Linked DNA regions of Homo sapiens: regions 1, 2, 3 and 4 are each linked to region 5. Evidence: fine-mapped expression QTL. A gene starts in region 5. Each other region holds a variant in brackets. All regions are shown on one strand. Distances are between the middles of the regions.

Evidence for each region.
Region 1: its variant is fine-mapped to the expression of HDAC1 in visceral fat (GTEx, PIP above 0.99).
Region 2: its variant is fine-mapped to the expression of HDAC1 in whole blood (TOPMed, PIP above 0.99).
Region 3: its variant is fine-mapped to the expression of HDAC1 in whole blood (TOPMed, PIP 0.93).
Region 4: its variant is fine-mapped to the expression of HDAC1 in whole blood (INTERVAL, PIP above 0.99).

The regions. Positions count from the first base shown.
Region 1 is chr1:32,247,243-32,252,371 of GRCh38, reverse strand. FAM167B (family with sequence similarity 167 member B) reads right to left here. Exons shown (of 2, transcript NM_032648.3): 1 at 4,690-5,129; 2 at 3,516-4,001. The coding sequence starts at 4,950. The coding sequence ends at 3,771. It overlaps LCK (LCK proto-oncogene, Src family tyrosine kinase), which reads right to left and starts at 1,107. Exons shown (of 13, transcript NM_005356.5): 1 at 1,001-1,107. RefSeq lists enhancers at 1,755-1,844, 1,895-2,104, 2,295-2,504, 3,733-3,892. The variant C/A (reference allele first, on the strand shown) is at 2,332.
Region 2 is chr1:32,313,013-32,318,141 of GRCh38, reverse strand. HDAC1 (histone deacetylase 1) reads right to left here. Exons shown (of 14, transcript NM_004964.3): 3 at 1,360-1,477. Among named protein-coding and RNA genes, the nearest start is that of MARCKSL1, 21 kb to the left of the region's middle. The variant T/G (reference allele first, on the strand shown) is at 2,602.
Region 3 is chr1:32,079,297-32,084,425 of GRCh38, reverse strand. The region is part of intron 5 of TMEM39B (transmembrane protein 39B); the gene reads right to left. Among named protein-coding and RNA genes, the nearest start is that of MIR5585, 5.1 kb to the left of the region's middle. The variant C/G (reference allele first, on the strand shown) is at 2,492.
Region 4 is chr1:32,324,325-32,329,453 of GRCh38, reverse strand. It overlaps HDAC1 (histone deacetylase 1), which reads right to left. Exons shown (of 14, transcript NM_004964.3): 4 at 4,901-4,975; 5 at 2,377-2,515; 6 at 1,777-1,918; 7 at 294-386. Among named protein-coding and RNA genes, the nearest start is that of MARCKSL1, 9.3 kb to the left of the region's middle. The variant G/A (reference allele first, on the strand shown) is at 2,110.
Region 5 is chr1:32,289,253-32,294,252 of GRCh38, reverse strand. HDAC1 (histone deacetylase 1) reads right to left here and starts at 2,170. Exons shown (of 14, transcript NM_004964.3): 1 at 2,035-2,170. The coding sequence starts at 2,083. RefSeq lists enhancers at 731-1,305, 1,377-1,436 and a silencer at 2,047-2,456.

The sequences.
Region 1 (5,129 bases), 42 kb after region 5:
GTAGCAACTATGCCTCCCCAGTCTCTCTCCACCTCCCTGGGGTTTGAAGCAGGAATCAGCAAAACCAACTGGCCCTACACAGGCAGGGCTGAAGCGGGAGGGAGCCAGGGGCGAGGGGAGGACATCCTGCTGTGACGCTTGGCAGGGGCAGGAATGGTGACTTTCCAGATGGAAGTTCAGCGCTTCCTCACCCAGGACCAACTGCACCCCTGTCTGGGATAAAAATAGTACTTCCTCTTCCTTTCTCCCATCATTCTCTTTCACTTCCAACTTCCCATACTCAGATCAGATATGTCCATCCACCCTGGAGCTCCATCCCAGATGATGGACACCCCCACACATATCAGTTCACGCCCATCAGGAGATTCTTCCCTCGATCGCTGAGGCTAAAATCACTCCTCGCATGTCCATCTGGATGCCTTGGGTGATCTCTGTCTCTCTCTCTCTCTCTCTCTCTCTCTCTCTCTCTCTCTCTCTTTCTCAGGAGATTCTTGTCACTGGGGTCTGCCCCAGAAACCAGAAGGATTCCTGGGTCCTCTGAGTCCAGCCTGTCCATCACCCTGCTCCAGGCGGGGTGGCCACAGCCTCAGCCATCACTCTCAGCCCTGCCACTGCCTTGCTGAGAAACCGTGGGCAGTGAGTGCCTTGTTCTCTCTGGGCCTCAGGAGCCTCATCCTCATGGCCTGAGGGACTGGGCTTGGTGGTTTCTGGAAGCCTTTTTAACACCTGACTGTCCATGTGCCTGGTGTCCAGGAAACACGCTCCCAGTCAGGTGGGGCCACTGGTGGACAGCACGACAGAGGCAAGCGACACCAGCTTCGCAGGAAAGAGGCGACCCAGCTACACTGCCTGCCTCCCACCTGACCTTGAGCGAGGATCTTCTCTCCCCAGCCACAAAGGGCTGCTGCATCCCTAGGGAGCCTGGGCCCGCACAGCTGCAGCCGTCTGCTATCAGGCCTCTCACCCCGGCGCCTGCGCCCCCAATACCAGCGCTCCTTACCTGCCCAGCCCGGGAGCCCTCTGGCCCCATTCACATGGTCCTCCTGGCCTAACCTGGCTGCCTGGACAGTCTCAGCTCCCTTCGCCGTCGTAGCCACCACCTGTCTCCCCGCGCCCACGTCCCACCCTGACTTCCTGCCTCCTCCGGAGGGCTCCGCAGCCAACCGGGCCCCAGCAGCCCAACCACAACCCTCTAGCACGCCAAGCTTCCTGCCACCATAGACCCCTGCCTCTCAGCCCCTGGGGGTCCCCTACATCTCCAGACCAGGTCCATCTTCCCCTACTGTCCCAGGGTGACACTGGGAGGTTTAAAGTTGAGGGGAGGATGTCTGATAGACCCTCCCTTCTGCCCTCCAGGGTGCATCTGGGCAAGAGATTCAAGGGCAGCCTTTGGGCCCAGTGAGCAGGGGGCAAGCGGACACACACTCAGCTTATGGTGAGAGGCAAACAGCACCTCAGCACCACCGTTGCAGCTGAGAGACCCTTTTGTTTCTGTCTGGCAGCAAAGGTAGCATCGTTCAGAGTCAGAGGAGAGGACAATATCCCTGTTAAATAGCTGGTGAGCAGACCATGCATGTTACAGTCAGGTCAGGCCGAGAGAACAATTCCCATGTCATCTCAGGGCATGGAACAGTAGCTTTATTATAGTCAAGGGTAGGTGAATGGCAGGCTACCATCCCTCTTACAGACAGAATGCTGGAAAACAGCCTGTTTCAGGAGGCAGACAGGACAACCTCATGTCTTCAAGAGGGCATAGTAACGGCCCCTGCTGTAGTCAGAGGCCAGGACAACACCCATTAATCATGGTTGGAGAGTAGGGCAACAGTTCGAATTCAGGTAGAGGCAAGGCCACAGCCCCTGGCAGAGGTGGAGGGCTTGGCACTATCTCCTGCAACAGGTGGAAGACAGAGCAAACAGGGCCGCTCAGGCCCCCAGGTGCAGGCCACAGACTGTCAGGACTTTCTGTTATAAGCAGGAGGCAAGAAGATTGTCACGAGCAGCAGGCAGGCAAAGAATTTCCATTTCCCCTGGGGCCAGGCTGAGGGGGCACCCATCATTAGCTGAGGGCCAGGTCACCAGTGATATGAGGAACTCCAGGTGGCCTCATCAGGTCCAAGAACTCGGCCTTGACCCCACCAGGAGGAAAGTGCACATGCGTCACTGCCTGAGTGAGCTGGTAGGGGGAGGGGAACCCACAGAGCATTGTTGGGGCTTGTGAGGTGGAAGCGATGCTGTGTGCACCTCAGCTGCAGAGAGAAGTGGGGGCAGGAAATAGGTGGGGGGAAGAGGAAGCCTGAGTTGGAAAGTCAGACAAAGAGGGTAACACAGAAA[C/A]AAAGGCTGAGAGAGACAAAGTGAAAAACCTTCACAGTGACACAGAGCCTAGAGTTGGAGCTCCAAGCCTGGTGCAGGGCCCAGACTCCCTTGCAATGTAAGCCTGAACACTTCACGGTCCATCTCCCTGTCTCAGCACAGAGTAGAAAGACTGCCGCGCTGGGAGTGAGTAATAGTTCATATTCACTGAGCGCTCACTGTGCACTATCTCCCGTAAGGCACATCTGCTGCCTGTGGAGTGAGAATCAGCATCTCCATTGTGGAGGTGAGGAAACAGACTCAGGGGTTAAGGGAGCTCCTCAGGGTCGAATAGAAATAAACGGTGGCTCAGGCCTGTAATCCTAGCACTTTGGAAACCCCAGGCAGGTGGATCACTTGAGGTCAGGAGTTTGAGACCAGCCTGGCCAACATGCTGAAACCCTGTCTCTATTAAAAATACAAAAATTAGCCGGGCATGGTGGCGGGTGCCTATAATCCCAGCTACTCGGGAGGCTGAGGCAGGAGAATCGCTTGAAATCGGAAGGTGGAGGTTGCAGTGAGCCAAGATCGCGCCACTACTCCAGCCTGGGCGAAAGAGTGAAATTCCATCTCAAAAAAAAGAAAAAAAAAAGAAAAGAAAAGAAAGGAAATTAGCTAGGCGAGGTGGTGGCCACCTGTAATCCCAGCTACTTGGGAGGCTGAGGCAGGAGAATCGCTTGAAATCAGAAGGTGGAGGTTGCAGTGAGCCAAGATCGCGCCACTACTCCAGCCTGGGCGAAAGAGTGAAATTCCATCTCAAAAAAAAGAAAAAAAAAGAAAAGAAAAGAAAGGAAATTAGCCAGGCGAGGTGGTGGCCGCCTGTAATCCCAGCTACTTGGGAGGCTGAGGCAGGAGAATCGCTTGATCCCCGGAGGCGGAGGTTGCAGTGAGCTGAGATTGTGCTACTGCATTCCAGCCTGGGTGACAGAGTGAGACTCTGCCTCAAAAAAAAAAAAAAAAAAAGAAGCAGAAGAAATAACAACAACAAAAAGAAATAAACGGGGTAGCTGGCTTTGAACCCATGTCTCTCAGATTCTGCATTCTTCAGGAGCCCAATTTACCTAAGTCACCTCCCATGGGCCTGCAGTGAACTAGGGTGGTCCCAGTGACAGGCGACATTCAGATAGCGGCCTTGGGCCTGAATAAACGACTGCAAGAGACCTTGATGGGAACCAGAGAAAGCGTTTATTGAGGAGTTTGAGGGTGTGAGCTCCTCCTCCTCCCCCTCCCAGCTGGGTCAGCAGAGGAAACAGGATGCTGGGGTTTTGCACTCTTGGAATTCAGCTCTCAGAAACCTGAATGTTCCTCCTCCCCCGCCAGGAGCTGGTGCCTCTGGGGCACCCCTCCCTTTCCTCTTCCCAGGCAGGCAGGGGAAGCGGCATTGGGAGAGGGGGCGGGGAGTCGGGGGGCACAGGTGTTCCTCAGCAGAGGGTGAAGCGCCGGGCGCTGATGTTCATGCGCGTGAGGCCCAGGTGCCGCAGCAGCGGGGCCAGGGCTAGGCCGGCCCCGGGCTCCAGCTCCAGCTCCAGCTCGGCCTCATCCAGCAGCTCCTGGTGCAGGTGACAGGCTTGGTCCATCTTCAGTCGGTGCAGCTGGGCCCGCAGCCGCAGCAGCTGCCCTGCCAGCTGCCTGTCCTGCGCCTGCATCTCCCGCTGCGGCCGAGAGGGGGCGTGAGCCTACTGGACAGGCCCTCGGCCGCGCGCCGTTTCTCCCTTCCTGGCAACGCTGGGCCTTTGCACTGACTGTGTCCTCCCCAGCCCCCTCTCACCTCAGCTTGATCTCTCCCTATCTCCCAATCTGGCTTCACCTGGTGGTTCTCAAACCCAGCTAAGGAGTCATTATTAAGCAAATCCAACTGCCTGGGCCCCATCCCAAATCAACTAAGCAGAATCTCTGTGTTGGAGCCTGGGTATCTTTATATTTGCACATGTTGAGTTGGGAGCCACCTACTGAAACTTCACCTCTTCAGAATCTGCCTGCAGCATGGCCAGTGCCTCCTTTTGCACTTCGCTGTATCTTTAGGCCATAGAAAGTCCCAGAGTAGGGGAGGCTGTGTATTTCCCTATTTATAATGGTGCCCCACACCCCCCAACACCAGTGCTCTGTCCCCTAAGCAACAGGAGCACAAGGTCAGTAGATTGGATGGAATCCTTCTTCAGCAAGCCTCCCTGAATACAACACTGGACAAGTCCATTCCCGGCTCCTCAGCCCAGGACACCGGAGCGGGCGGTTGCTGGAGGCAGGGTCCATTCTCATCCCTTCCCCATGCCTGTGGTCTTGGACCCTAAGGAGGACCAGCCTGAAGGCCCTGGGCAAAGCTGCCCACCCCACCAGACTCACCAGCTCCCGTCGGAGCCACTCAAGGGCGGAGTCCATTGAGTCGAAACCACAGATGTCCCCAGGTCCCCCTGGTCCAGGTTTGGCTTGGGCCCTGCGCCAGGCCTGGCTCTGGACCTGGGCTGTCCACTCCAGATATGAGGGCCGCCGAGTCTGCAGCTGCAGCTTGGCTGTCAGTGCCTTCACAGAGTCCAGGCTCTCCCCCTCCTCATCCTCCTCGTCCTCTTCACCCACTGCCTGGAATTTCAGTAGCCCCAGGGACATGGCAGGTTTGAGGTGAGTGACAGGGCAGGGCTGCAGCTCTGAGATTAGGGAAAGGCTGGCAGTATTGCCCAGGGAGAGGTGGCAGAAGTTGAGGGTGAGAAGAGCGTGCCAGGGAGTGTGTGGTGGTCAATGTTCAAGGTGGGTTAGGGGGGCTGAATGTGCCAGGGTGAGTGAGCAGA
Region 2 (5,129 bases), 24 kb before region 5:
CCTAAAAATACAAAATTAGCCGGGCGTGGTGGCACATCCCTGTAATCCCAGCTACTCAGGAGGCTGAGGCAGGATAATCGCTTGAAGCCGGGAGACGGAGGTTGTGGTGAGTAGAGATCGCCCCATTGCACTCCAGCCTGGGCAACAAGAGCGAAACTCTGTCTCAAAAAAAAGTGGCAGGGGCGGGAAATAACACCAGAGGGGCTAGGAAACCAAGGATTCAAACTAAGACATGAAAGCTTATTTTCTTACTTTAATAGCAAGTTGCTCCTCTAGTGAGAGCCCACTGTGCTGAGAGTAGAGCCTGATCCTTGGCCTAAATGGGTTATGGAAACCTCTAAAGCCATCTACAGGAAAGGCATGAATTTGCCTCATCTTGGAGGGAAATAAGACCCTGCAATTCAGAGAGCAAACACCTCACTCACAGCAGCTGGCAGCTCCTGGAGTTGTCGGTAGCAAAGAAGCTTAATGCTTCAAGGAAGGTCTCTGTGGTTCTGCCATCAATACCACTGTACAGTTATTATTAGTTGTAATAATAGTTATAAATAACTTTCTTCCTTGGGAGTAAGACTACCTTGTGGTCAGCAGCAACAAACAAGTGCCGCATATTTTCTGACACTTCCATATAAGCTGTCATAAGTTAATCAAAACTTCTTCTGGACAGTGCTGTTATACTATATGAAGTCTTAGGTGCTAAGAGATAATTTCTAAAATAACACAAGGGGGAAGTCAGGTATGATAGTTTTGTCCCAAATTTGAATACTTTTTTTTTCCCCCTCACAGCTAAAATAATTCCCACGATTCCTACAAACTAAGCGTGGCTTCCAAGATGGGACCTGCTCTGAAGTTCAAGTCCAAGGGATCAGGGGCAGCATCACCTCATCTCAAAGATTACACCATCTAGAATCTGTCCTGAGTGGCCTCTAAATTCTCAATTAATACCCACTAAGTCAAAACAGTTACAGTTGGACAGAAATCAGAGATCATGTGGCCCAGCCCACTTTACAAAAGAAGAATCTGAGGGGAAGTGACTTGCCCACTCAGCTGAGAGTTAGAGTTAAATTTTACTGTATCTATTGTCTCCCCGTCCCAGGTCAGTGCTTTTTCCACTACAATAATTACAGTACTCTTGGGACAGTGTTGTGAACATAACCAGAAAAAGTACTACCTCTATCGTTTACAAATCAGGAAACATGAAAAATCCGACTTGAGGGGAAAAAGCACTCTGGCACCTTTAGGAGGTAGGGGAAATCAGGTGTCCACTGAATGGGAGGTGCGAGGACGGCAGAATGGGCCTCTACAGTGGAAAGGGAGATGCAACTGGCGGCTTCAGAGTGTGAGGGAACAGAATGGACTTACATCTCTGCATCTGCTTGCTGTACTCCGACATGTTATCTGGACGGATGGAGCGCAAGAATTTAATGTAGTCATCGCTGTGGTACTTGGTCATCTCCTCAGCATTGGCTTTGTGAGGGCGCTAGAGGGCAGAAGGGAGAAAGGGCAAGTTATTTTTGACCACGGCCAGTCCAGTCAATCTAGTTTGAATATTTATATTTCCTGCGCAGCATGGAGCTAGGTGCTATAAAGAATAAAAAGAAATAACTGGTTAGATTCAGGCTTCAAGAAATTTACAATCTAACTAGGCAAACAAGATTATCAAAGGAGACAGAGTATCAGAAGACCTACAGCAGCTCAAGCTCTGTTGCTTAGGCAAGTTACTGTCTCTTGAACCTCCATTTCCTCATTTACTAAACAGGGACAACATAGACCACACAGGGAAGTTGAGAGAATTGGAAGAGGTTGTTAAATCTCTTTGTAAACTGTAAGGTGCTTTACAAAATTATTACTTTTTTTTTTTGAGACGGAGTCTCGCTCTGTCTCCCAGGCTAGAGTGCAGTGGCGCAATCTCGGCTCACTGCAAGCTCCGCCTCCCGGCTTCACGCCATTCTCCTGCCTCAGCCTTCCAAGTAGCTGGGACTACAGACGCCCACCACCACGCCCGGCTAATTTTTTTTGTATTTTTAGTAGAGACAGGGTTTCACCGTGTTAGCTAGGATGGTCTTGATCTCCTGACCTCGTGATCCGCCCGCCTCGGCCTTCCAAAGTGCTGAGATTACAGGCATGAGCCACCAAGCCCGACCTTTTTTTTCGTTTTTTTTTGTTTGTTTGTTTGTTTTGAGGCGGAGTCTCACTCTGTCACCCAGGCTGGAGTGCAATGGCATGATCTCGACTCACTGCAACCTTCGCCTCCTGGGTTCAAGCGATTCTCCTGCCTCAGCCTCCCGAGTAGTTGGGATTACAGGCGCCCACCACGACGCTGGCTAATTTTTGTATTTTTAGTAGAGATGGGGTTTTACCATGTTGGTCAGGATGGTCTCGAACTCCTGACCTCAGGTGATCCGCCCTCCTCGGCCTCCCAAAGTGCTGGATTACAGGCATGAGCCACTGCGCCCGGCCTACAAAATTATTACTTATTATTATATAAAACTGGCCGAGTGCAGTGGCTCACGCCTGTAATCCCAGCACTTTGGGAGGCTGAGGCGGGTGGATCACCTGAGGTTAGAAGTTCGAGACCATCCTGACCAATATGATGAAATCTGG[T/G]CTCTACTAAAAATACAAAAATTAGCTGGACGTGGTGGCATGCACCTGTAATCCCAACTACTCAGGAGGCTGAGACAGGAGAATCGCTTGAACCTGGGAGGTGGAGGTTGCAGTGAGCTGAGATTGTGCCACTGCACTCCATCCTGGGCAACAAGAGTGAAACTTCCTCTCAAAAAAATAAATTAAAAAAAATATATATGTATATATACGTATTATAAAATTATGGACAAAATGGCTCCAAGAGTTCACGAAAAAAGGGTATCTAATGAAAACTGAAACAGATGGGAAATCCTTTATAAGTCATCACATCAACAATTTTGATCACATCCTCCCCACTAACACTTCCTTGACAAGCTAATTTCCTGGTTATCCCAACATTCTGACTCCTCCTTCCCTTTTTAAAATTATTTCCTTTTCCTCCCATCCCTTAAAGGTAGGTCTTCTTCAAACATGACCCTCTGCCTCTCTAATTACCAATACAACAAAAGTCCTCACTTAATGTCATCCACAGGTTCTTGGAAATTGTGACTATAGGCAAAACAATGTATAAAGAAACCAATTTTACCATAGGCTAATTGATATAAACAAGAACTTAAGCTCCTACAGCATATTTCTGTCACAAAAACATCACTAAAATTCTAAATAAAGACCCAAAACACTTCAAACATCAAATACTGAAATAAATGTGAAATATCCCTTTTTTTTTTTTTTTTTTGAGACGGAGTCTCGCTCTGTCGCCCAGGCTGGAGTGCAGTGGCGCGATCTCGGCTCACTGCAAGCTCTGTCTCCCAGGTTCACACCATTCTCCTGCCTCAGCCTCCCAAGTAGCTGGGACTACAGGCGCCCGCCATCACACCTGGCTAATTTTTTGTACATTTAGTAGAGATGGGGTTTCACCATGTTAGCCAGGATGGTCTCGATCTCCTGACCTCGTGATCCACCCGCCTCGGCCTCCCAAAGTGCTGGGATTACAGGCATGAGCCACCTTGCCCGGCGAAATATCTCTATATTTAAGAAATATTTATAAAAATAAGGAAGATCATTATTGGGCTGGGTGCAGTGGCTCATGCCTAAAATCCCAGTACTTCGGGAGGCTGAGGCAGGTGGATCACTTGAACCCAGGAGTTTGAGACCAGCCTGGGCAACGTGGTGAAACCCTGTCTCTACAAAAATATAAAAAATTAGCTGGCTGTGGTGGCACTTGCCTATAGTCCTAACTACTCAAGAGGCTAAGGTGGGAGGATCACCTGAGCCCAGGGAAGTCCAGGCTGCAGTGAGCTGTGATCTTGCCACTGCACTACAGTCTGGGCAACAGAGCAAGACCCCGTCTCAAAAAATATATACATTATTATTTACCCAATTTTTGGTGAATCAGTGAGTGATGGCGGTTGTTGTGGTGGTGGGTTAAATCAAATAATAAATGTATGCAAAGTTAAAATTGCAAGGAGAACCTTCTACCATCATGCAGTTCAAAAACGAACAATAACAAATATGGCAGGCTCGCTGAGTGTTTCTGTATCACATCTTTTATTGTTGTGCATCTGTATGATTATTGTCTACTTTATGAATTTTTACTTGACAATAATTTGAATTCAATCATTCATTTCCAAGGGTGGCCAGAGCCTGTCCCGCAGCTCAACACAAGGAACCAACCTTGGACAGGACGCCATTCCATCACAGGGTGCACTCACACCCATATCCACACTTGCTCAGACTAGGACCATGGAAACATGCCAACTCACCTCACATGCACATCTTTGGGATGTGGGAGAAAAATGGAGTACCCGGAGAAAACCTACACAGACATGGGGAGAATATGCAAACACCATACAGATAGTGGCCATGCCAGGAATCAGTTATTTTTCTCCTCAACGTTATAACTAAATGATGCTGAGCGAAGTGATGTTATTTGAGAACCTGCCATATTTTCTGCAGTTTATAAAGCATTTTCAATACACAGCCAACATTTATTGTTTCCTCTGTGACAGTCACTCTTTCAGGCACTTTAAACGCTATCTCATATGATTCTTACAACAACCTTTTAAAGATCTAAGCCCTGGAGGATCGCTTGAGCCTAGGACTTCAAGGCTAGCCTGGACAACATAGTGAGACCCTGTCTTTTTCTCTTTTTTAAAATAATTATCGGGGCCAGGCGCAGTGGCTCACACCTGTAATCCCAGCACTTTGGGAGGCCGAGGTGGGTGGCTCACCTGAGGCCAGGAGTTCAAGACCACCCTGGCCAACACAGCGAAACCCCATCTCCAATAAAAATACAAAAATTAGCCGGGCGTCATGGCAGGTGCCTGGAATCCCAGCTACTCAGGAGGCTGAGGCAGGAGAATTGCTTGAACTCGGAGGCAGAGGCTGCATTGAGCTGAGATCATGCCACTGCGTTCCAGCCTGGGCAACAAAGCGAGACTCCATCTCAAATAAATAAATAAATAAATAAATAAATAAAATAAAATAAGTTATTGGGCAATCTCTCCAGGCCAGAATGTGTTCAGATTCCTAAGACCCCATCTCTGAAA
Region 3 (5,129 bases), 210 kb after region 5:
AGAAAGAGGAAGACATGGGATTCAGGAAGCAGGGGGTCCAACCCAGGAGGGCAGCAAAGGGAAGTCCCAGGCTGAGAGCTGTACAGCAGACCTAAAGAGCAAACACTCCAGACTGCAGCAGGAGGAGGAAGGGCTCCAGGAGGGATGCCTTTGTAGGGGGAAGCAGGGAGAAGGAAATGGACTCCAGGCAACAGGCAGTATGACTGAGAGGCTGGATAAACTTGAGGATATGATGAAGGCTCATCATTCTTTTGTCAATAAGAAAAAAGAAAGGCAATTAGAAAGTCCAAGAAAAATAAAAAGCCATATAAGAAAGCTATGGTGTAAACATGAAGCAAACTAAAATGTGCTATGATTTTAAGTAACTGATAGAATGTAAGAAAAATCATTTCACCTTGACACTAGGAACATTTGTGTGTGTGTGTGTGTGTCTGTGTGTCTGAAACAGGGTCTTGCTCTATTGCCCACGCTGGAGTGCAGTGGAACAATCTCAGCTCACTGTAACCTCTGGCATTAGCTGGGCATGGTAGCCTGTACCTGTAGTCCCAGCTACTTGGGAGGCTGAGATGGGAGGATGGCTTGAGCCAGTGAGGCAGAGGTTGCAATAAACTGAGATTGCACCACTGCCTCCTGGGTTCAAGCGATTCTTATACCTTAGCCTCCTGAGTAGCTGGGAGTACAGGTCCTTTAAAGAAGTCCTTTAAGGCTGGGCACGGTGGCTCACACCTGTAATCCCAGCACTTTGGGAAGCTGAGATGGACGGATCACGAGGTCAGGAGATCGAGACCATCCTGACTAACACGGTGAAACCCCGTCTCTACTAAAAATACAAAAAATTAGCCAGGCGTGGTGGCGGGCGCGTGTAGTCCCAGCTACTCGGGAGGCTGAGGCAGGAAAATCGCTTGAAACTGGGAAGTGAAGGTTGCAGTGAGCCAAGATTGCACTATTCCACTCCAGCCTGGGCAACAACGGCGAATCTCCATCTCAAAAAAAAAAAAAAAAAAAAAAAAAAAAAAGAAGTCCTTTAAAAAAATGTTCCTGCCGGCCAGGCGTGGTAGCTCACACCTGTAATCCCAGCACTTTGGGAAGCTGAGGTGGGTGGATCACCTGAGGTCGGGAGTTCGAGACCAGCCTGACCAACATGGAGAAACCCCATCTCTACGGAAAATACAAAATTAGCTGGGCATGGTGGCGCATGCCTGTAATCCCAGCTACTCGGGAGCTGAGGGAGGAGAATCACTTGAACTTGGGAGGCGGAGGCTGCAGTGAGCAGAGATGGCGCCATTGCACACCAAGGCTGGGCAACAAGAGCAAAACTCCGTCTCAAAAAAAAAAAAAAAAAAAAAAAACCAGGCTGGGCGCGGTGGCTCACGCTTGTAATCCCAGCACTTTGGGAGGCTGAGGCGGGTGGATCACGAGGTCAGGAGATCGAGACCATCCTGGCTAACACGGTGAAACCCCGTCTCTACTAAACATACAAAAAACTAGCCAGGCGTGGTGGCGGGTGCCTGTAGTCCCAGCTACTCGGGAGGCTGAGGCTGGAGAATGGCGTGAACCCAGGAGGCAGAGCTTGCAGTGAGTTGAGATCGTGCCACTGCACTACAGCCTGGGCGACAGAGCGAGACTCCGTCTCAAAAAAAAACAAAAAACAAAAAACAAAAAAAGTTCCTGGCTGGGCTTGGTGGTTCATGCCTGTAATCCCAGCACTTTGGGAGGCCAAGATGAATGGATCACTTGAGGTTGGGAGTTCGAGACCAGCCTGGCAAACATGGCGAAACCCCATCTCTACTAAAAATACAAAAAATTAGCTGGGCGTGGTGGTGCACACCTGTAATCCCAGCTACTCGGGAGGTTGAGGCAGGAGAACTGCTTGAACCTGGGAGGCGGAGGTTGCAGTGAGCTGAGATTGTGACACTGCACTCCAGCCTGGGTGACAGAGAGAGACTCCATCTCAAAAAAAATAAAAATAAAAATAAATAAATAAAGAGGTCCAAGACTGTAACTCTGTAACTACAGAGAAGAAATGTCATGTATGCATACTACTGGGCCCTGGAGTGAATGATATTTTCATACACATAATTATATCAAAGCCACATACTGGTTTTTAATTTTCAGAATTAGGCTTAGACAAAGAATGGAAGGCTTAAATGTGGTTACATAGGAGAATGTGAATGTCAAGCTTGACGATATAAAAGTAAAAATACAGCTGCCAGGAAGTGAAAAGAGGAAGAGGGGAGGAAAAGTGGTTGGATAGGGTGCCTAATATTCTTGTCTTACATAAAAAGTATTCAAGATACTATTGTTGATGGAAAAAAAAAGTATAGGGATACTTATACTATTGATGAAAATAACCAACAGAAACTTAAAAATATTAAAAGCTATCAATTACTGGGAACAGTAAGGATGGGATCGTGAGCTAAATCATCTGTCATTGCAGGGAATCAATATACTTGCATATGTGTGTATGTGGTATGTTTGTATATGCGTAGAA[C/G]ATTTGTTTCCAGGATATACAAGAAACCAAAAACATTGATAATTACCTCTTGGAAAGGAAACTGGGTGGCTGGGAGGCAGCAGTCAAGGGGAGACTTTTTCATGGTATACTCTTTTAAACCTTCTGAATTTTAACTATGTAAACCTCTTATTCAATTCTAAAATAAATCAATAATTTTCTTTTTTTTGAGACAGAGTCTCACTCTATTGCCCAGGCTGGAGTGCAGTGGTGCAAACTCAGCTCGCTGCAACCTCCACCTCCCAGTTTCAAGCAATTCTCCTGCCTCAGCCTCCCAAGTAGCTGGGACTACAGGCGTGCACCACCACACCTGGCTAATTTTTGTATTTTTAGTAGAGAAAGGGTTTCACCATGATGGCCAGGCTGGTCTTGAACTCCTGACCTCAAGTGATCCATTCACCTTGGCCTTCCAAAGTGCTGGGATTACAAGCGTGAGCCACCACGCTTGGCCAATAAATAAATTTTTAAAAAGAATAAGCAGGCTAGGTACAGTGGCTGATGCCTGTAGTTCCAACTACTCAGAAGGCTGAAGTGGGAGGACGGCTTGAGCCTGGGAGGCAGAGGTTGCAGTGAGCCGAGATTGCACCACTGCACTCCAGCCTGGGCAACAGAGCCAGACCCTGACTCAGGGTCTTGTCACTCAGGCTGGAGTGCAGTGCCACTTTAGAACTGGATAATAGGTTTACAGACTCTGTCTGTAAACAAACAAACAAACAAACAAACAAATAAAAAAACCCAGAAAGTAAAAGAGACTGCTATTGAAGAGTGGGACTAAAAATCTGGAGGCGGGATTGGAGACTAATGTTTTTCTATGAAGAGTGGGACTAAAAATCTGGAGGCGGGATTGGAGACTAATGTTTTTCTATTTATTTATTTATTTATTTTTAGAGACAGGGTCTCACTCTGTTGTCCACGCTGAAGTGCACTGGTGTGATCATGGCTCACTTCGGCCTCAAATCCACCAGCTAAAGCAATCTTCTCACCTCAGCCTCCCAAGTCACTGAGATCACAGGCATGAGCTACCGTGCCCAGCAATGGTTTTCATTATAAGCTTTTCAGCACTATTGGATTTAATTTTTTACAATATGTTTATATTTGGTCAATAAACATTTTTAAATTAAATAATGAAAAATAAAGCATAATATGACATTGGGTGTTATCTGCATCCATGAAGAAAAGATTCACCAGGTAGTAACCATAAACTGTCAAATTAAGGCAACTCTTTTTTTTTTTTTTTTTTTTGAGACAGAGTCTCACTCTGTTGCCCAGGCTGGAGTGCAGTGGTGCAGTGGTGCGATCTTGGCTCACTGCAAGCTCCGCCTCCCAGGTTCACACCATTCTCCTGCCTCAGCCTCCCGAGTAGCTGGGACTGCAAGTGCCATCCACCATGCCCGGCTAGTTTTTTGTATTTTTTTAGTAGAGACGGGGTTTCACTGTGTTAGCCAGGATGGTCTCAATCTCCTGACCTCGTGATCCACCCGCCTCAGCCTCCCAAAGTGCTGGGATTACAGGCATGAGCCACCGCGTCCGACAGGCAACTCTTAAGTTCTAACCAGTGCAACCCTTTCGAAGGACAATTTGTTAATAACTATGAAAAATCTAAATGAATCCATCTTTTGGTGTAGTTAATTCTTCTGGGAATCTACTGTGCAGAGATACTGGACACATATGCAATTATTCATTGTTATGAATAAGGAAAAGCTAGAAACAACTTAAAAGTTTGCCAGTAGGCCAGGCACGGTGGCTCACGCCTGTAATCACAGCACTTTGGGAGACCAAGGTGGGCGGATCACGAGGTCAGGAGATCGAGACCATCCTGGCTAACACGGTGAAACCCCATCTCTACTAAGAATACAAAAAATTGCCGAGCATGGTGGCTCATGTCTGTAATCCCAGCACTTTGGGAGGCCAAGGCAGGCGGATCACCTGAGACCAGCCTGACCAACATGGAGAAACCCCATCTCTACTAGAAATACAAAATTAGCTGGGCTTGGTGGAGCATGCCTGTAGTCTCAGCTACTTGGGAGGCTGAGGCAGGAGAACTGCTTGAACCCGGGAGTTGGAGGCTGCAGTGAGCCAAGATTGCACCACTGCACTCCAGCCTGGGCAACAGAGCAAGACTCCATCTCAGAAAAAAAAAAAAATTGCCAATAGAAGACAAATAAATTGTGAAAATTCTATAACATAGAATACTGCGAGGCCATTAAAAAAATGAGGCAGCAGGTCATGATGGCGCATGCCCATAGTCCCAGCTACTCAGAAGGCTGAGGTGGGAGGATTGCTTGAGCCGAGGAATTCTATGCTATAATGTGCTATGCCGATGAGGTGCCTGCATAGAAGTTCAGCATCCATATGGTGAACTCCTGGGAGTGGGGGACCACATAATTGCCTAAGGAGGGGATGAACTGGTCCAGGTTAGAAATAGAACAGGTTGGCCAGGCGCGGTGGCTCATGCCTGTAATCCCAGCACTTTGGGAGGCCGAGGCGGGCAGATCATGAGGTCAGGAGATTGAGACCATCCTGGCTAACACGGTGAAACCCTGTCTCTACTAAAAATACAAAAAATTAGCTAGGTGTGGTGGCAGGCGCCTGTAGTCCCAGCTACTCAGGAGGCTGAGGC
Region 4 (5,129 bases), 35 kb before region 5:
CTAATCATAGACTACTGGGTATGTGCCTGCCTTCCCCACCATAGTCCGTGAGGGCAAAGATCATGTCTTAGATATTTTTGTATCCAGCAGAAGACCTGACCCATAGAAGGAACCAATAAATATGGGTGTTTGTTCCCCTAACTGACCACACAGCAATCCAGGGTTCAAACACTTCTATCTCCCCACCAGCTTTAGTAAGGAGAGATTCCTGAGGTATGGTGGGGGTGCTTTGCTCCCCTCCACCGCCAACCAATCCCCTGTTTGTAGCCCAAGGGGTGGATAAAGCCACTTACCGGCTTGAAAATGGCCTCATAGGACTCGTCATCAATCCCGTCTCGGAGCGGGTAGTTAACAGCATAATACTTGCCTTTGCCAGCCCCGATATCCTAATTAAAAAGGCCATTAAAGTAAAACTGAAGGATGAAGCTTGAAGGAAGGTCAAGGATAGGGGCTGGAGGGATAAAGGAAGAGGTTCAAGAGAGACAAGCTAGGCCCATGATGTGGGCCAGGACAGAACAGAGGTACCTTGTTAGTACCATTCTCTTCACTGGCAAATCTAGCTTCACTGGCAAATCATCTCTGGACATAGCATTAAGCCTACCCCCAGACTGAGAGCTCTTGATGGGACCAGAGATTGAATAGCCTACCCTATAGCACAAGATTTCTACCTTGGGATTGGGTTAGAGCTGGCTGGCAGGTGAGTCACAGAAGTGACAGCCACCCTTGACAACCCTTTCCACTCCAGAGAGCTCTAATGCTCACTCCTCTTCCCCCATGCTCCCTCTCTAGGGTGTTGTGGAGGGAAGGAGAGAGGTAAGAAAGTCCTTCCCAGTAACCTCAAAATAGTGAGTGCGCCTATTTAAGTCCAGCACTTTGGGAGGCTGAGGCGGGTGAATCTTGAGGTCAGGAGTTCGAGACCAGCCTGGCCAACATGGCAAAACCCCATCTCTTTTAAAAATACAAAAATTAGCCGGGCATAGTTGCACGCACTTATAATCCCAGCTAAATCCCGGCTATTCGGAGGCTGAGGCACAAGATCGCCTGGAGGCGGGAGGCGGAGGCTGCAGTGAACCGAGATCACGCCACTGCACTCCAGGCTGGGTGACAGAGAGAGACTGTCTCAAAAAAAAAAAAAAAGTGAATGCTCATTTATTCTAACGCTTGCCATGGCAAACAACTGAATTAGTGCCACTTTTTTACCCAAGGGCTACCAGGCATGGCAAAGCAGCTGATTTCACCACATTCATGCTAATAGAAGCAGATGGAACAGTTCAACGAAGTAGCTTCCAAGGATTCTTATCCTAAGGTTCATGGATGGGCTTCAGTAAGGGGACTTGTCTATTAACTATTCTATATCAGATGTAAAATCTCATGTACTTTTCTGGAGAGACAGTCCATAGTTTTCAGTCAAAAGGCTAAAGGGGAAAGTGACCCAAAAACATGAAGAACACTTGAGATGTCCTTCAGAGTCCCAATTCCTACCCCCAAACTCAAGGCTTATGAGACATAAGAATAGTGTGATGCAACCCAGCTGTGGCCAGGAGGAAAGTACAGTGAGTCAGGAGACCCCTCTTCTTTCTCTGGCCCTTTATGTCCCATCATTCCCTTCCTCCAGAATAAGGAAGGGAAAGAGATCAGGGCAAGTGCTTCAGATTGGGATGTGGTATTCTGATTGGCAGAAGAGGCAAGAAGCAATTTTTAGTGGCATGAGATAGGAGAGAGAAGTAGAGCTGCCAGCTGAGGGTAAGCCGGTTGGCTCCTAAAGGGCGTTCTCACCCGTAGGTCCCCAGTTCCTGGGAAGTACTCTCCATACTTATGAAAGGACACAGTCATGACCCGGTCCGTGGTGTAGAAGGCCTCTTCCACGCCGTCACCATGGTGAATATCAATGTCAATGTACAGCACCCTCTGGTGATACCTAGGATCAGAAGGGGGTCAGGGGTCTGGGGGCTCTTTGGGGATGGGACGTGCCAAGGGCGCTAGCTCCCAGCTTACCGGGCTGGCTGCCTCCCTCAGGTATCTCTAAGCACCAGAGACGTGGAAACTGGCTGAAGGAAGGTGGAAGAGCGGCCGGGTGTCTCCAGAGGCCTGACCAAGCCGACCAAGTCC[G/A]ATCTTCCTACTCTACAGCCAGGGTCAACTCCAGCCACACAGGGACACTCTGGAGGCAGGATCTGAGCAGCATCTGCCCCTGATCATGCCGTGGCTCAGATCAAACCAAGACCCCATCAAGGAGATGATGGCCAGAGACACTCACCGAGCACATCCTAGCCAGCACATCGGTAGGAAAAGCAAACTAGGGAGGCAAGCCCAGGGGAAGAGGGAAATGGGAACCTGGCCTAAGGTGCTCTTCCAAGAGACAAGGCCAGGCAGGCATACTTTAGCAGTTCCAGGATGGCCAAGACGATATCATTGACGTAACAGAAGCCAGATGCCTCGGACTTCTTTGCATGGTGCAGGCCCCCAGCCCAATTCACAGCGATGTCCGTCTGCTGCTTATTAAGTTTCACAGCACTTGCTGGGCATGAGAAAAGAGAACATAAGCCTGTTACTAAGCCACTCTCCCCTTCCTCCAAGAAGCCCAGGGAACCTAGTGAAAGGTTAAGACCTGCCTATTCAACAGCTGTATTGTGCAATTCATAGACCAGTCCCCTCCCTCCCACCCTACTTCAGCAGGGAATACATGATACTGTCTACTCGTAAAAAACGATTTTCCAAACTGAGGGTAGTAACCCATTAGCAGGCCTTAAAATTGATTTAGTACATCATGATTAGTGTGTGTGTGTATATATATATATATTTTTTTAATGAAATAGCATAGAAAAAAATATCAGAGTAACAGTAAGGGTAACTGCTCTTTTGTAAAACTCTGGCTTCAGAGTGAGTGAGTGTGTGCATGCATGCATATGTTATATGTATCCTGGATTGCATGTGTAAATTTATTTCTTACTATGGCTCATGGTCAAGGAACTTTGAAAAAATACCAAAGATAGGCCATGCGCGGTGGCTCACACCTGTAATCCCAGAAGTTTGGGAGGCCAAGGCGGGCACATCACCTGAGGTCAAGAGTTCGATACCAGCCTGGCCAACATGGTTAAACCTCATCTCTATTAAAAATACGAAAAAATTTAGCTGGGCGTGGTGACATACACTTGTAGTCCCAGCTACCTGGGGAGGCTGAGGCAGGAGAATCGCTTGAACCCAGGAGGCGGAGGTTGCAGTGAGCCAAGATCACGCCACTGCACTCCAGCCTGGGTGATGGAGGGAGACTCTATTTCAAAAAAAAAGAAAAAGAAAAATTACCAAAGATAGTGCTGATACACTAGGTCAAAAAGCACTAGCACGAATAGGTCCCAGAAGAAGTAAAAGATAAATACACACCCATGTGTGCAAGTGCATTTGTGGCAGTGTTAATTTGTTGTTGTTTTTTGAGATGGAGTCTCACTCTGTCACCCAGGCTGAAGTGCAGTGGCGCGATCTCGGCTCACTGCAACCTCCGCCTCCCAGGTTCAAGCAATTCTCCTGCCTCAGCCTCCCAAGTAGCTGGGATTACAGGCACACACCACCACGCCCGGCTAATTTTTGTATTTTTTAGTATAGATGGGGTTTCACCATGTTGGTCAGGCTGGTCTCAAACTCCTGACCTCAGGTGATCCACCCTCTTCAGCCTCCCAAAGTGCTGAGATTACAGGCATGTGCCACCGTGTCCAGCTGCAGTGTTGATTTTAACAGCAATAAAAGCATAGATTGATCCAAATTATCAAGAAGAGGGACAGATTATATCAACTCAAGTAAATCCACAACATGGAATAATCATAGAGCCACAAGAAAGCAAGCTGTAGAAAACTACAGACAATTTCGTTAAGTAGGAAATGCAGGCATAAAACCATATATATGTGATATGTATATAACCCACTTTTGTAAAATATAGATGTTGTATATGTGTGACACAGATATAAACACACACACAAAAGAATGGCCATACAAACACCAACATGGTAACAGAGGTTATCCACCAACCCTGTGACTGTGGGTGATTGTGTTTTTTTCTGTGCACTTCTTTGTTTTCTGTGATTATATTGGTGGGGCAGCGGGGATGGACACAATGATTATATTGGTGGGGGATCACAGGAAAATAAATATTTGTTAAGAAAGCGTTTAGAGTAATCCTGGAGATAACCCAAAAGTTGCAAATGGAAGTGGGAGATACATGAGGAGTATTTCTGACCTCTAAAGGTAATTACCATACTTTTTCATAGGACAGATTCACAGATGATGACACTTCCATTTTTATAGCACTTTGCAGTTCACAAATTGCTTTTACGTACAGCATCTTAACAACCCCAGGAGGTCTGCGGGGAACGCCTGTACATAAGATCTCTTAGTAGGAAAGGACAGTCAAGGACACCTGTCAGTACCATGTCAGAGATTGAACCTGGGCTGGGACTGAACCAGAGGGACATTTTAGAGGCTTTTTAAATTTTTTTTTTGGAGGCAGGGTCTTGCTTTGTTGCCCAGGCTAGAGTGTAGTGGTGTGACCACGACTCACTGCAGCCTCAACCTACTGGGTTTAAGCCTCAGCCTCCTGAGTAGCTGGGACTACAGGCACGAGTCACCATGCCCGGCTAATTGTTTTTACTTATTTTATTTTTTTATAGACAGGAGGGTCTATGTTGCCTGGGCTGGTCTTGAACTCCTGACCTCAAGCAATCCTCCTCCTCAGCCTCTCAAAGTGCTGGGATTACAGGTGTGAGACACTACACCAGCCATTTTAGAGACTTCAGTAAAAACCACAGGACCATTCTACATGGTTTCAGATCAGCCAACTAGGATAGCAGCCTAAAAGGCAGACCTCACTAGAACAACCCAGTCTACCCCTGGGGAGAAGATGAATATTCCTTACCCACAGAACCACCAGTAGACAACTGACAGAACTCAAACAGGCCATCGAATACTGGACAGTCCTCACCAACGTTGACTTGAAAGAAATAAGCAAAAGGTTAGTTTCCACAATTTCCTTTAGTTTACATATTTATGAGCTGATGGAAAAAAACACAGAATTTAAATTCAGGAGGTGTGGGTTCTAGTCCAGGCTCTACTTCCTGGCTGTATGACTGCATCAAGTTGTTTAA
Region 5 (5,000 bases):
CCCTTGAATCTGGGAGGTGGAGGTTGCAGTTGCAGTGAGCCGAGATCAAGCCACTGCACTCCAGCCTGGGTGACAGAGCTAGACATCATCTCAAAAAATAAAAAATACTGCCCACACCAGGAACTTGGGATCCATGCCTTCTTCCTTACCCCTACAATCTGAATTTTTTTGTTTTTTTTTTTTTTGAGACGAAGTCTCGCTCTGTTGCCCAGGACGGAGTGCAGTGGTGAGATCTCAGCCCACTGCAACCTCTGCCTCCCAGGTTCAAACAACTCTCGCACCTCAGCCTCCTGAGTAGCTGGGACTACAGGCATGTGCCACCACACCTCGCTAATTTTTTTTTTTTTTTTTGAGATGGAGTCTCACCCTGTTGCCCAGGCTGGAGTGCAGCGGTGCAATCTTGGCTCACTGCAACCTCTGCCTCCTGGGTTCAAGCGACTCTCCTGCCTCAGCCTCCTGAGTAGCTGGGATTACAGGTGCGCACCACCACACCCGGGTAATTTTTGTATTTTTAGTAGAGACAGGGTTTCACCATGTTGGTCAGGCTGGTCTTGAACTCCTGACCTCATGATCCGCCCGCCTCAGCCTCCCAAAGTGCCGGGATTACAGGCGTGAGCCACCGTGCCCAGCCTAAATTTTGTATTTTTAGTAGAGATGGGGTTTCACCGTGTTGGCCAGGCTGGTCCTGAACTCCTGGCCCCGAGTGATCTGCCTGCCTCAGCCTCCCAAAGTACTGGGATTAGAGAGGTGTGAGCCACTGCACCTGGCCCCCATTACTTTAATTTCTAAGGTATAAACCTGATGATGTCAATAACCTGCATAAAACTTGAATCACTCACAAGTGCCCTCAATAAAGTCCAACTTCCTTGGGACAGCATGCCCAGCCCTTCATGGTCCGGTCCCTATTTACATCTTTTTTTTTTTTTTTTTTTAAGACAGAGCCTCGCTCTGTTGTCCAAGCTGGAGTGCAGTGGCACGATCTCAGCTCACTGCAACCTCTGCCTCCCGGGTTCTAAGGGATTCTCCTGCCTTAGGCTCCAGAGTAGCTGGGATTACAGGCGCACACCACCATGCGCGGCTAATTTTGTATTTTTAGTAGAGACGGGGTTTCACCATGTTGGCCAGGCTGGTCTCGAACTCCTGACCTCAGGTGATCCACCAGCCTCGGCCTCCCAAAGTGCTGGGATTACAGGCGTGAGCCACCACGCCCGGCCAAATGCCTGTTTTTCAAAGGTCCTGTCCTCTCTCTTGCCTCTGAAACTTGCTGTTATCTTTGCCTTCCCTGTGCCTGGCTAAGAACTCCTGTTCTTCAGGTCCTAACTAAGATGTCCCCTCCTTCGCTGACTCCTCAGGTGGAGTTCGGTGCCTCTTCTCTGTGCTCCCCTAACACTCTGAGCTCTGACACGGAGAGAACTTCGGTCACTGGGAAGGGTGACCCGATCAACCCCACGGCCCCAGCCCCTCAACACTTCCTCGAACACAGTAACCTGCTTGAGAGATTAAGTGAGAAGTCTGTTTTAACAGGTTGCATCCTTCTCCTTGCAACCCCTGGCGCCCCACGTCGCAGTAGCAACCGCAGGCCCCGCTCAGAGGCTGGGGGAGGGGAGGCGGGCAACCAGTCGTGCAGGACTCTTCCCCCAGAAAAGATGAGGAAGGGACGGGGCAGGGAAGAGCTTTGGGTTCTCGGCAAGAAAATGTATCCTTGCAGCCGTCTCCATCAGATTCAGCCTCCCCGCTCCGACGCACCCTCCCCTCTAGGAGTCCCACTCAAACTCTCCACATCAGACTTCCTCAGAATCTTCCCATCAAGATTACCTCACGCTTCCCCCACGCGATCCCCTCTTGGTCTCAGCCTCGATCTCCCTTCCTCGCAGCCTCCTCCCTCAGCCTCGACTTCCCCCTCGCAGCCTCCTCTCCGAGCCTCTCCCCAGCGCCTCAGCCTCCCGCAGCCTCCCATCGGCGCTCCAGCCTCAGCCTCCAGGTTCCCGGTCCGGCCCGGCCTGGCCCCGCCCCCGCCGCGAGGACGGTGCTCACCGTCGTAGTAGTAACAGACTTTCCTCCGGGTGCCCTGCGTCTGCGCCATCTTGCTCGCCTCCCGTCCCTACCGTCAGTCGGTCCGTCCGCCCTCCCGCCCGCGGCTCCGCTCAGCGTCCGACCCAGGGGGGAGGGGGCGGGCCTCCGGCCCGCCCCGCCCGTCCCCTCCTGGGCTCACCTATAGCCGCGCAGCCCGGGCACCGCTCCAGCCAATCAGCTTGCGCAGACACGGGCCCGGAACTCGGCAGGGGGCAAGGGCAGCCCGGAGAGGCCGCCGAGGGCCCCCTGGGCCTGTACCAAGGTCTGCGACAGATGGGTGGGGAGCCGCCCGGGGACCGTACCATCAGTCCCGGGGGAGGAAAGCAGCTCTGTAAACTTAACAGTCCCACTTCGTCGTGAAAAGCGTGCTTGGAGATCGGAGGCCAACTTTCTGATTTTACGGAGAATAAACCGAGGCCTACAGGGGAAAAGTGACTTGCACAAGGTCACTCAGCCAATAAAAGGGCTGAACCTGGGTTAGAAAGCGAGTTTGTGGCCGCAAAGGAGGGCTACAGAAAAATAATTAAAAAGAAAAGCAACACGCGGGTTTGGAGAGGAAGAAACCGACAAGAAAGGGAAAGAAAGCTAATGTTTGTCGAGGGGCTGCTGTGTGCCAAGTACTGTGCGACACTTTACCAATGTTATTTCAGTTTTTCCTCAAAACAGCTCTCGGCCAAGGGCTTTTTACCTCCATTTTACAGGACAGGATAAAGAAGTTCAGACTTCTGTGAATTATTCAAAGTTACACAAAGTAATTAAATTCAATTTTTTAATTGTACAGGGTTTTTAAAATGCTTTCTTTGCACCAGAGGCACTGTAACAAAGTGACAGAACCCAGCCTTTCAGACTCCAAAATCTACCTCCCTGATGCAGTCACCCAGGATGACTAAGTAGGCGTCTCTTTAGACAGGAGGAAATGGGATTATCCTATGATAGGAGGGCAGGTTTCCTTTCTTTTCTTTCCCTGTTTTTTTTTTTTTTTTTTTTTTTGAGACAAGAGTTTCGCTCTAGTTGCCCAGGCTGGAGTGCAATGGTGTGATCTCGGCTCACCACAATCTCTGCCTCTGTGTTCAAGCGGTTCTCCTGCCTCAGCCTCCCGAGTAGCTGGGATTACAAGCATGTGCCACCATGCCCGGCTAATTTTGTATTTTTGGTAGAGACTGGGTTTCTCCGTGTTGGTCCAGGTGGTCTCGAACTCCTGACCTCAGGATCCGCCCACCTCGGCCTCCCAATATGCTGAGATTACGGGCGTGAGCCACAGCGCCCGGCCTAGGAGGGCAGGTTTCTCAGCCTGGTAGCTAATGACATTTTGGGCCAGGTAATGCTTTTTTGTAGGAAGCTATTCTGTGCATTAACAGCTTCTGTGAAGCTGTTCTGTGCCTGGGCAACTAGAGTGAAACTCTTGTCTCAAAAAAAAAAAAAATTAAGCAGCATCCTTAGCCTCTACCCACTAGATGCCAGTAGCACCTTCCCCCCAGGCTGTGACAACCAAAATTGTCTCTAGACATTGCCAAGTACTGTGCAATAGCTTTACCATTGGGTTGGGGGGAAGATTAGTGGGGTGTAAGGGAGTGTAAAATTGCCCCCAACTCTACCATTAAGAACCACTCCACCAGATCATCAATTATCAACTGATCATCACTGAAAGCTGAAAGACCTAAAAGTGCAATGCTGGGCTATTAAAATAACTACAATAATGTCAATATTTAATGAGTGCTTCCTGTGTGCCAAACATTGCTCTAAGTTAGCCGCCAACTTGTGGTCCTACAGTCAACAAGAGGCTGGGCACAGTGGCTCACGCCTGTAATCCCAGCACTTTGGGAGGCCAAGATGGGTGGATCACTTGAGCTCAGGAGTTCGAGACCAGCCTGGGCAACATGGCAAAACCCCATCTCTACAAAAAATAGAAAAATTACCCAGGTGTGGGGGCGCGCTCCTGTAGTTCCAGCTACTCAGGAGGCTGAGGTGGGATGATGGCTTGAGCCCAGGAGACAGATGTTGCAGTGAGCCAAGATCATGTCACCACACTCCAGCCTGGGCAATAGAGCCAGGCCTTGTCTCAAACAAAAGAAAACAACAAGATACATCTTTATGCCTCTTTAAAGAGTGTTTGGGACTTGTGTTTCTCACTCAGAAACTGCATTTGAGTCATTAATTATAAGGTAACAGAAAATCTAAGACTGGGTGGCTTATAATAGAAACAGCAAAGGGCCAGGGAACAAATTCTACTCCCAGTTCTCTGTTGCTAATTCTCAGCTAGCCCTGGGTGGGTTTACTTAACCATTCTGGGCCTCCATTTCCCTTGTTATAAAATGGGGAGGAGGCCGGGCACAGTGACTCATGCCTGTAATCCTAACAATTTGGAAGGCTGAGGTGGGCAAATCACCTGAGGTCAGGAGTTCGAGACCAGCCTGCCCAGCACGGTGAAACCCCGTCTCTATTAAAAATGCAAAAATTAGCTGGGCGTGGTGGTGTGTGCCTGTAGGTCCCAGCTACTTAGGAGGCTGAGGCAGGAGATTCGCTTGAAACCGGGAGGTGGAGGTTGCAGTGAGCCGAGATCAGGCCACTGCATTACAGTCTGGATGACAGAGTGAGACTCTGTCTCAAATAAATAAGAAATAAAATAAAATAACAAAAATGGGGAGGATAGGAATACAAAGTTCACCCACGCTATGGCTGTACACAGTATCCCAAAGAGAAGGAGTGTGGGGATCAGATGAGATCATGAGGTGTGGCAGCAGGTCAGTCAGGTGATAGATTTACATTATTATGACTCAGATGCTCTTTGTTTGCATATATATATGTATATATATATATATAATTTTTTTTTTTTTTGAGATGAAGTCTCACTCTGTCGCCCAGGCTGGAGTGTAGTGGTGCGATCTTGGCTCACTGCAAGCTCCACCTCTCGAGTTCACGCCATTCTC